Homo sapiens: one gene and its partner. The protein of the gene in region 2 purifies or fractionates together with the protein of the main gene of each other region. This does not show direct contact. Each region holds a gene or a part of one and is shown on either strand. Other genes may lie near its edges. The genes, in order: BLVRA and PHF13.

Region 1 (3,815 bases), on a different chromosome or scaffold from region 2:
GGAAGGGTATGTGAAGAGGGAAACAGTGTGAGTACTGGCAGGGCTGTCATGCAGGGGTGTGACCTGGCCATCCTCCCATACAACCTGGGTAGTGTAGGTGTTCCCACTGAGCTGACCCTGGAAGCCAACTGGCAGAGGACTGGGGCTTAAGGGAAAAGGAAAGGTCCCATTTCAGCCTTGCGCCCAAGTGCTGTGTGTGGTCCCAGCTCCAGATAGGGGTGCGATGGGGGTTACGGTGCTGCCTGATCTTAACTTTGCTCTCCCATTTGTGTGCAGCTCCCTTGGAATCTTATGGGGAGGAGAAGGCTGGCCCAAGGGCAGATTCTAGCACTTCTGGGTCTCCCTGGTGCTTCCAAGCCCATTTTAAATCCTTAAAAGTGGGGCCATGTTTTGAGACAGGCCGGAAGAGGATGGCCCCATGAATGAAAACATGAAAAAATTTCTACATAGACTATCACAATTGTTACTTATGCTTTGTGTAAATATTTATCTGATGTCTCTAAAGCACTAGAAAAAGAGTTGCCTAACTTGCTCACTACCATGTCTTCAGGCCCAGCCCAGTGCCTGCACCTAGTCCAAAATTAATATGGATAAATGATGTTACACAGGATTAGTCTGGTGCCTGTATCTAGTTCACAATTAATATTGACAAATGATGTTATACAGGATTAGTCTGGTGAGTGGTGCGTGTGTGTGTGTGTGTGTACAGGGGTGAGTGGAAAATTTGAGCATGGGGGAAGAAGAAACAAGGTGATAAGTTTGATTTTGACTGGAGATAAATGAATCCTTAAAGAAAAGGGGGAGGCTGGGTGCACTGGCTCACGCCTATAATCTCAGCACTTTGGGAGGCCGAGGCAGGAGGATCACTTGACCCCAGGAGTTTGAGACCAGTCTAGGCAACATAGGGAGACCCTGTCTCTACAAAAAAAAAAAAAAAATTATCCAGGCGTGGTGGTGTGTGTGTCTGTAGTCCCAGCTACTCAGAAGGCTGAGGCAGGAGGACCACTTGAGCTGTGAGGCGGGAGGATCACTTGAGCCCAGACGGTCAAGGCTGCAGTGCGCTGTGATTGCACCATTGCGCTGCAGCTTGGGTGACAGAGTGAGACTCTGTCTCAAAAAAAATAATAATAATAATAAAAGTGAGGCTCAAAATTACCAATGGCAAAAGAACACATGGTGTTTAAAAGATGGGCTTTGGAAACAGACTTCTGCTCAACTTCAGTTCTTAGACTTTCCAGCTGTGTGACCTCAGGCAGATTACTTAACCTTTCTGTGGTTCAGCCTCCTTATCTGTAAACTGGGGGGTTAATAACACTACGCAGAAGGAAATATCACATGTAGAGCCCAGGACCACCTAGGATGGCTGTCATGATGACTATGTCAGGATTCCCCGGTGCACACCGAAAGCCTTTCAGGCCAAAGCCCCATGCATGTGTTTTCTGTGCCCCTTCTCTAACTGTCAGCCTTGAGCTCACCCTCCTGCCTCTGTCTTCCAGTCTCCCAGGCCAACCTACTGTGCATCCCAGCTGCAGGCCCAGCAAGCTTCAGTTCCCAGACCCATCCCAACCTGAGATCTTATGGGGCTGACCCTAAGCACAGTTCTCAGTTGGGAGATGGCTCTCCCTGCCCTGGGTCTGGAAAATCTCCATGTCCTGCAGCTAATCCGCCTCACTGGGCTTTCCATGAATTATGAAGCACAAAGACATTGTGAGCCACCTCGACACGAAGCCAATCAGGTTCAGGAACGCTGAGGAAGGGTGTGGATTCCGCAAGTCCCTCATCCGCACGGAGCCGGCTCGGCCAACACCAACCACCACCACGCCAAACTTCCTCTCGGGCTGAAACACAAGGGACCAAGGTGGAGTCTGAAAACACTGTAGGCATCGAGCAGAAAACTACAAAACAAAGGAGCTGGCAGGGTCCCGACGAGCAAGATGGAAGCCAGCCCAAAACACACAGGAAGCCACAGCATCAGGATGGGATGAGACAGTCCCCGAAATGGGGGCTTGGAGAGAAGTCAGTCCCGCCAAAACCTGTTCTTGAAGGTGCTCCACCATGTCTTTAGGTTGAAAACCTTCCGAGTACCCACAGAAAGTGTTCCCCCAATTTGGCTCTCCACTTCTACTGCCCCATCTCCAATAATGAGGGAGCTTTCCCCATTAACCCAGACCCAGCCCATGGCCTGGTACTTCTGCCCTCCCTGGGTCCCTCCTCCAGTGGACACATGAATCTGATACTACTGGGAGTCATTCAGAGGGCACAGCTTCTTCATCAGATGCTGGCAGAGGAGGCAAATGGGCAAACCATGATTGGTCACCTTACTCAGCGTGGGATCCAGAGGCTTTGACTCTTCACTACAGCCTTCTGAGTTCCACATTTAAGATACTGCAGTATCTTAAATATTATTTAAGTGCACTGCTGGAGGCTGTATGTGAACAGTATTACAGTGAAAAATCAAACTGACTTTTAAGTTATACAGCAACTCAGTATAATAAAAACTGATAAAATTTATCTCCATGCACTGGGCACGGTGGCTCACGCCTGTAATCCCAGCACTTTGGGAGGCCGAGGCAGGTGGATCACTTGAGGTCAGGAGTTCCAGACCAGCCTGGCCAACATGGAGAAACCTCGTCTCTACTAAAAATACAAAAATTAGCTGGGCCTGTTGGCAGGCGCCTGTAATCCCAGCTACTTAGGAGGCCGAGGCAGGAGAATTGCTTGAACCTGGGAGGCGGAGATTGCAGTGACCCAAGATAGCGCCACTGCACTCCAGCCTGGGTGACAGAGTGAGACTCTATCTCAAAAAAAAAAAAATTATCTCCATGCATCCCTTAAACTCACTTCTTGGATGCCTCTGAGCATAGAAACATGAATGTCATCTCAGATTTGCCCCTTTTCTTCACCTCTGTACCCAGTTGTCACCACTTCCCACTGACTCTGCCCCTCTTCCTGTGCCCACTGCTCTTGTCTTCTCCTTCCAGGATTTCTTCCAAATGTTTGGGGATTTGCCAAATGTTTTTCTATTATTGATTTCTCATTTAATCCCACTGTGGTCAGAGAACATTCTTTAAATGATTTGAATCCTTTTAGATTTATTGAGATATTTTATGATACGGGATGTGGTCTACCTTGGTTAATGTTCTGGGCACACTTGAAAAGAATGTGTATTCTGCTATTGTTGGGTGGAGTGTTCTATAAGTCTGTTAGATCAAGTTGGTTGATTGTGTTGTTCAGGTCTTCGTATCCTTCCTGATTTTCTGTCTCCTTGCTCTAGCAATTATTGAGGGTAGAGAAATCTCTGAATATAATTGTATATAACTGTGTATTTCTCCTTTCAGTTCTATCAGTTTTGACCCACATATTTCAAAACTCTGTTATTAGATACATACAAGTTTAGGATGGTTATGTCCTTTTTTTTAATTGACCCCTTTATCTTTCTAAAATGACCATTTTTATTCCTGGTAATATTTTTTGCCCTATAATTTATTTTGTCTGATATTAACAATCCATTCCCAATTTCTGTTGATCAGTGTTGCATAATACATTTTTTCCCCAACCTTTCACATTTAATCTATATGTGTTTTCATAGCTATAGTTAGTTTCTTATAGGCAGCATATAGTTAGGTCTTGCTTTTTTTTACTCAGTCTAACAATCTCTGCCTTTTAGTTGAAACGTTTAGACAATTTACATTGTGATTATTGATATGGTTGGGTTTCCATTCAAATTCTATAGAAATCCTGCTATTTGTTCAATCTGTTCTTTTTCCCCTCTTTTCCTGCCTTATTTTGGATTAATTAGAATATTTATTATGATT
Region 2 (3,815 bases):
TTCTCCTCCTTGGACAGTGGGGCTGTCACACTCTACGGAAGGCACCAGACCCTGTGCCCCAGAGAGATGACCACTTAATAAAATAACCTCTCTTCTAACCACAAGCCAACAAGGGTCATCATCCTTCAGGGACCACTCACCTGAGTCCACCATGATGTCCTCATCATTGCCAGTGCTGTCCTCATCTCGGAACACCACCTGCTTTCCCTGCCGGACGATAGTCCGTTTGCCTTCAGTTTTTATTTCTTTGACCTGATCAGGTGACACAGTGGCACAAGATCCACTCGAGGGAGTATCGGAGTCCCAGCCCGAGCAGGGGTCGCTGGGAGCCTGGGGGATATCCTGCAAGGTGGGACTCGTGGGGGTCTCCACGTAGGGGTCAGCGGCTTCCAGCTTCAGCAAGCCCCCCCTGTACCCCTCTTTCCCAGGCGCATCACTGTCCCTGCGCTTCCTCTTCTTCTTCTTCTTCAGCTTGTCCGTTTTCTTTCTGTCCAGCAGGAAGTTACTGGGCTTGGCTCGCTGCAAGAGAGTAGGCTGCAGGTGGCTAAAGCAGCGGTCAGAGACTGGCAAGGGCACTGAGGACGCGATGTCTGAGAAACCCGCGTCCCAGCCGTCGCTGTCAATGGTACCAGCAGTGCTGTTAGCAGGGCTGGGGCTGCTCCTTAAAGGGAGTTCCTAAAAAGACAAAGGTGGCAGATTCCAGTTACTGGTGACAAGATCCAGCCCAGAGCAGAGCATCCCCAGCCACCCAGCCATGTCAGACCTCCAGAGACATCTGCACAACTTTGAGCTTCTCTGCCCATCAGCATCACACTTGAAGCAACAGTAACATGAGTTCTGGCTGGGCGTGGTGGCTCACACCTGTAATCCCAGCACTCTGGGACGCCAAGGCAGGCGGATCACCTGAGACCAGGAGTTCAAGACCAACCTGGCCAACATGGTGAAACCCCATCTCTACTAAAAATACAAAAATTAGCTGGGCGTGGTGGTGGTGCCTGTAGTCCCAGCTACTTGGGAGGCTGAGGCAGGAGAATCGCTTGAACCCGGGAGGCAAATGTTGCAGTGAGCCACTGCACTCCAGCCTTGGTAACGGGAGGGAGATTCTGTGTCTCAAAAAAAAAAAAACCCAGTGCCATCAGTGCCATGAGTTTAATGTGATGCCACGAAGAGAGAAACTCCCTGCTGAACCCTCAGCCCCATCTTAGAGACAGAAAATTCATCAGTGTGCAACAGGTGTCTGTGGGAAGGAGTGCTGTGGACACCCACTCCTATCTGCTCATTGTTCCCTGATTGTAAAACCTCTCCTTCCATTTGCCCTCCCAAGAGATATATTGTTTTAAGTGAATTTAAATTAGTTTTGAGAATTTCCTGACACTCTTAAAAAACTAGACATTCCAAAATATTGCAGAATCCAAGTAGGTAATTACTGCCCCAAAGCAGTGAAGTAAACTCTATGGTTCATTCAGATCACAAGCATATCATTTGCAAACAGTGGCAACGTCCTCCTTGTCTTGCTAGAAAACAGGCATTAGGCTGGGTGCGGGGGCTCACACCTGTAATCCCAGCACTTTGGGAGGCTGAGGCGGGTAGATCACCTGAGCTCAGGAGTTCGACACCAGCCTGGCCAACATGGTGAAACCCCCTCTCTACCAAAAATACAAAAAAATTAGCTGTGCATGATGGCTGACACCTGTAATCCCAGCTACTTGGGAGGCTGAAGCAGGGAGAATTGCTTGAACCCAGGAGGCAGAAGTTGCAGTGAGCTGAGATCGCACCACCACACTCCAGCCTGAGCCACAGAGCAAGACTCCGTCTCAAAAAAAGAAAAAAAGAAAGAAAAGAAAGCAGGCATTAGCCACCTATGTAGCAGATGGAAATAAACCAATGCTGGCAGTTTGCCTGCTAGAAATATACTGAATGCAGCTGGGCACAGTGGCTCGTGCCTGTAAACCCAGCACTCTGGGAGACCAAGGCAGGAGCATCACTACCTCGAGACCAGCCTCAGCAACACAGTGAGACCTTGTCTCTACAAAAAATAAAATTACGGCCAAACGCAGTGGCTCACGCCTGTAATCCTAGCACTTTGGGAAGCCAAGGCAGGTGGGTCACTTGAGGCCAGGAGTTTGACACCAACCTGGGCAACATGGCGAAACCTTGTATCTACTAAAAATACAAAAATTAGGTGGGTGTGGTGGTGGGCCTGTAGTCCCAGCTACTTGGAAGGCTGAGGTGGGAGGATCACTTCAGCACAGGAGAAAGAGGCTGCAGTGAGCCAAGACTGTGCCACTGCACTCCAGCCTGGGCAACAGAGCAAGACCTGTCGCAAAAAAAAAAAAGCTGGATTGTTCAATTTTGAGCTTAATCGAATACGAAAGAGGCCTGAAGTCTGAGCACCACAGCCGCTCTCCTCCAGTCCTGCCCTGTTCTCAGCAAGTGAAAAAACCTCCTTCATCTACATCAAGTTGCAGCCATGAGTCCCTGAAGACAATCATACGCATTTCGGGCAGCCAGGGAGCTGAGACAGAGGCAGCGTGTGCACTGAGTCCAGCCATCTGGTTGAACCCCAAGCTCCACCACTAATCAGTGGGTGACCTAAGACAAAGTTTTCCCTCTCTATGCCTTAGTTTCCTCAGCTTATAAACTGGAGATAAAAAATAGCACCTACCTCATAGCATTACATAGGCCAAGAATAGTGTCCAGCTATGGTCAACAGTCAGTAACTACAGACCCTTATTAAAAGCAAGCAGACAGCCAGGTGCAGTGGCTCAACGCTTGTAATCCCAGCACTTTTGGGAGGCCGAGGCGGGTGGATCATGAGGTCAGGAGTTCGAGACCAGCCTCGACAACACGGTGAAACCCCGTCTCTAGTAAAAATACAAAAAACTAGCTGGGTGTGGTGGCGCGCCCAGCTACTCATGAGGCTGAGACAGGAGAATCGCTTGAACCCAGGAGGCAGAGGTTGCAGTGAGCCACAATTGCACCACGGCACTCCAGCCTGGGCGACAGAGCCAGACTCCATTTCAAACAAACAAACAAAAAGAGCAAGCAAATATCACATATTTTATTTGTAAATAAACTGAAAGTTTACTAAATCGGCTGGGCGGTAGCTCACGCCTGTAATCCCAGCACTCTGGGAGGCCGAGGCAGGTGAATCACCTGAGGTCAGGAGTTCGAGACCAGTCTGGCCAACAAGGTAAAACCCTGTCTCTACCAAAAATACAAAAAAGAATTAGCGTGGTGGCGCACGCCTGTCATCCCAACTACTGAGGAGGTTGAGGCAGGAGAATCCCTTGAACCCGGGGGTGGAGTTTTACGACACTGCACTCCAGCCTGGGCGACAGAGCAAGTTTCCATTCCAAAAAAAAAGAAAGTTTACTAAATCATTTTCTAGACAAGCCTGCATTTTCTACCAGAGTTTTTACCAGAGTTTTAGAACCATTTCCCCAGCTAATTCAAACTCTCAAGAAACAGATTTCTGCCAGACTAGTGACTGGGGTCACCACAAGCAGCCCCTTCCAAACCTACTGACCCTCTGACCAGTCAGAAGCCCACGAACTTGCGGTGGAGGCACTGGGTTTGACTACTCATCAAGAAAGGTCTCAGAAACTCAGAAGATTACCTCCTTCGGATAAGGGATGTAGCCAGCATAGGCCAAGACAAAGGTGCAGAATTTGTTGAAGTCTTCCACGGTCCTGCGCCTCTTGCAACTGGGGGAGTATTCCTATTAAGGGGAGAGAAAAGGGAATGTGTTTGAAGGAGAGGCTTCCAGGCGGAATCACAGAAACAAAAGGAAGTAAGCTGGAACTTTTGTAGTC

What was found.
Region 1: the proteins of PHF13 (region 2) and BLVRA purify together in Homo sapiens (affinity purification with mass spectrometry; one large-scale study listed by BioGRID and IntAct). This does not show direct contact.

The regions. Positions count from the first base shown.
Region 1 is NC_000007.14:43,785,927-43,789,741, reverse strand, and holds part of BLVRA (biliverdin reductase A), read right to left. Parts: intron 1,839-3,815; coding exon 1,717-1,838; intron 1-1,716. UniProt on the Homo sapiens protein: Reduces the gamma-methene bridge of the open tetrapyrrole, biliverdin IXalpha, to bilirubin with the concomitant oxidation of a NADH or NADPH cofactor. Does not reduce bilirubin IXbeta.
Region 2 is NC_000001.11:6,616,663-6,620,477, reverse strand, and holds part of PHF13 (PHD finger protein 13), read right to left. Parts: intron 3,722-3,815; coding exon 3,620-3,721; intron 676-3,619; coding exon 141-675; intron 1-140. UniProt on the Homo sapiens protein: Modulates chromatin structure and DNA damage response by regulating key determinants of chromatin compaction and DNA damage response.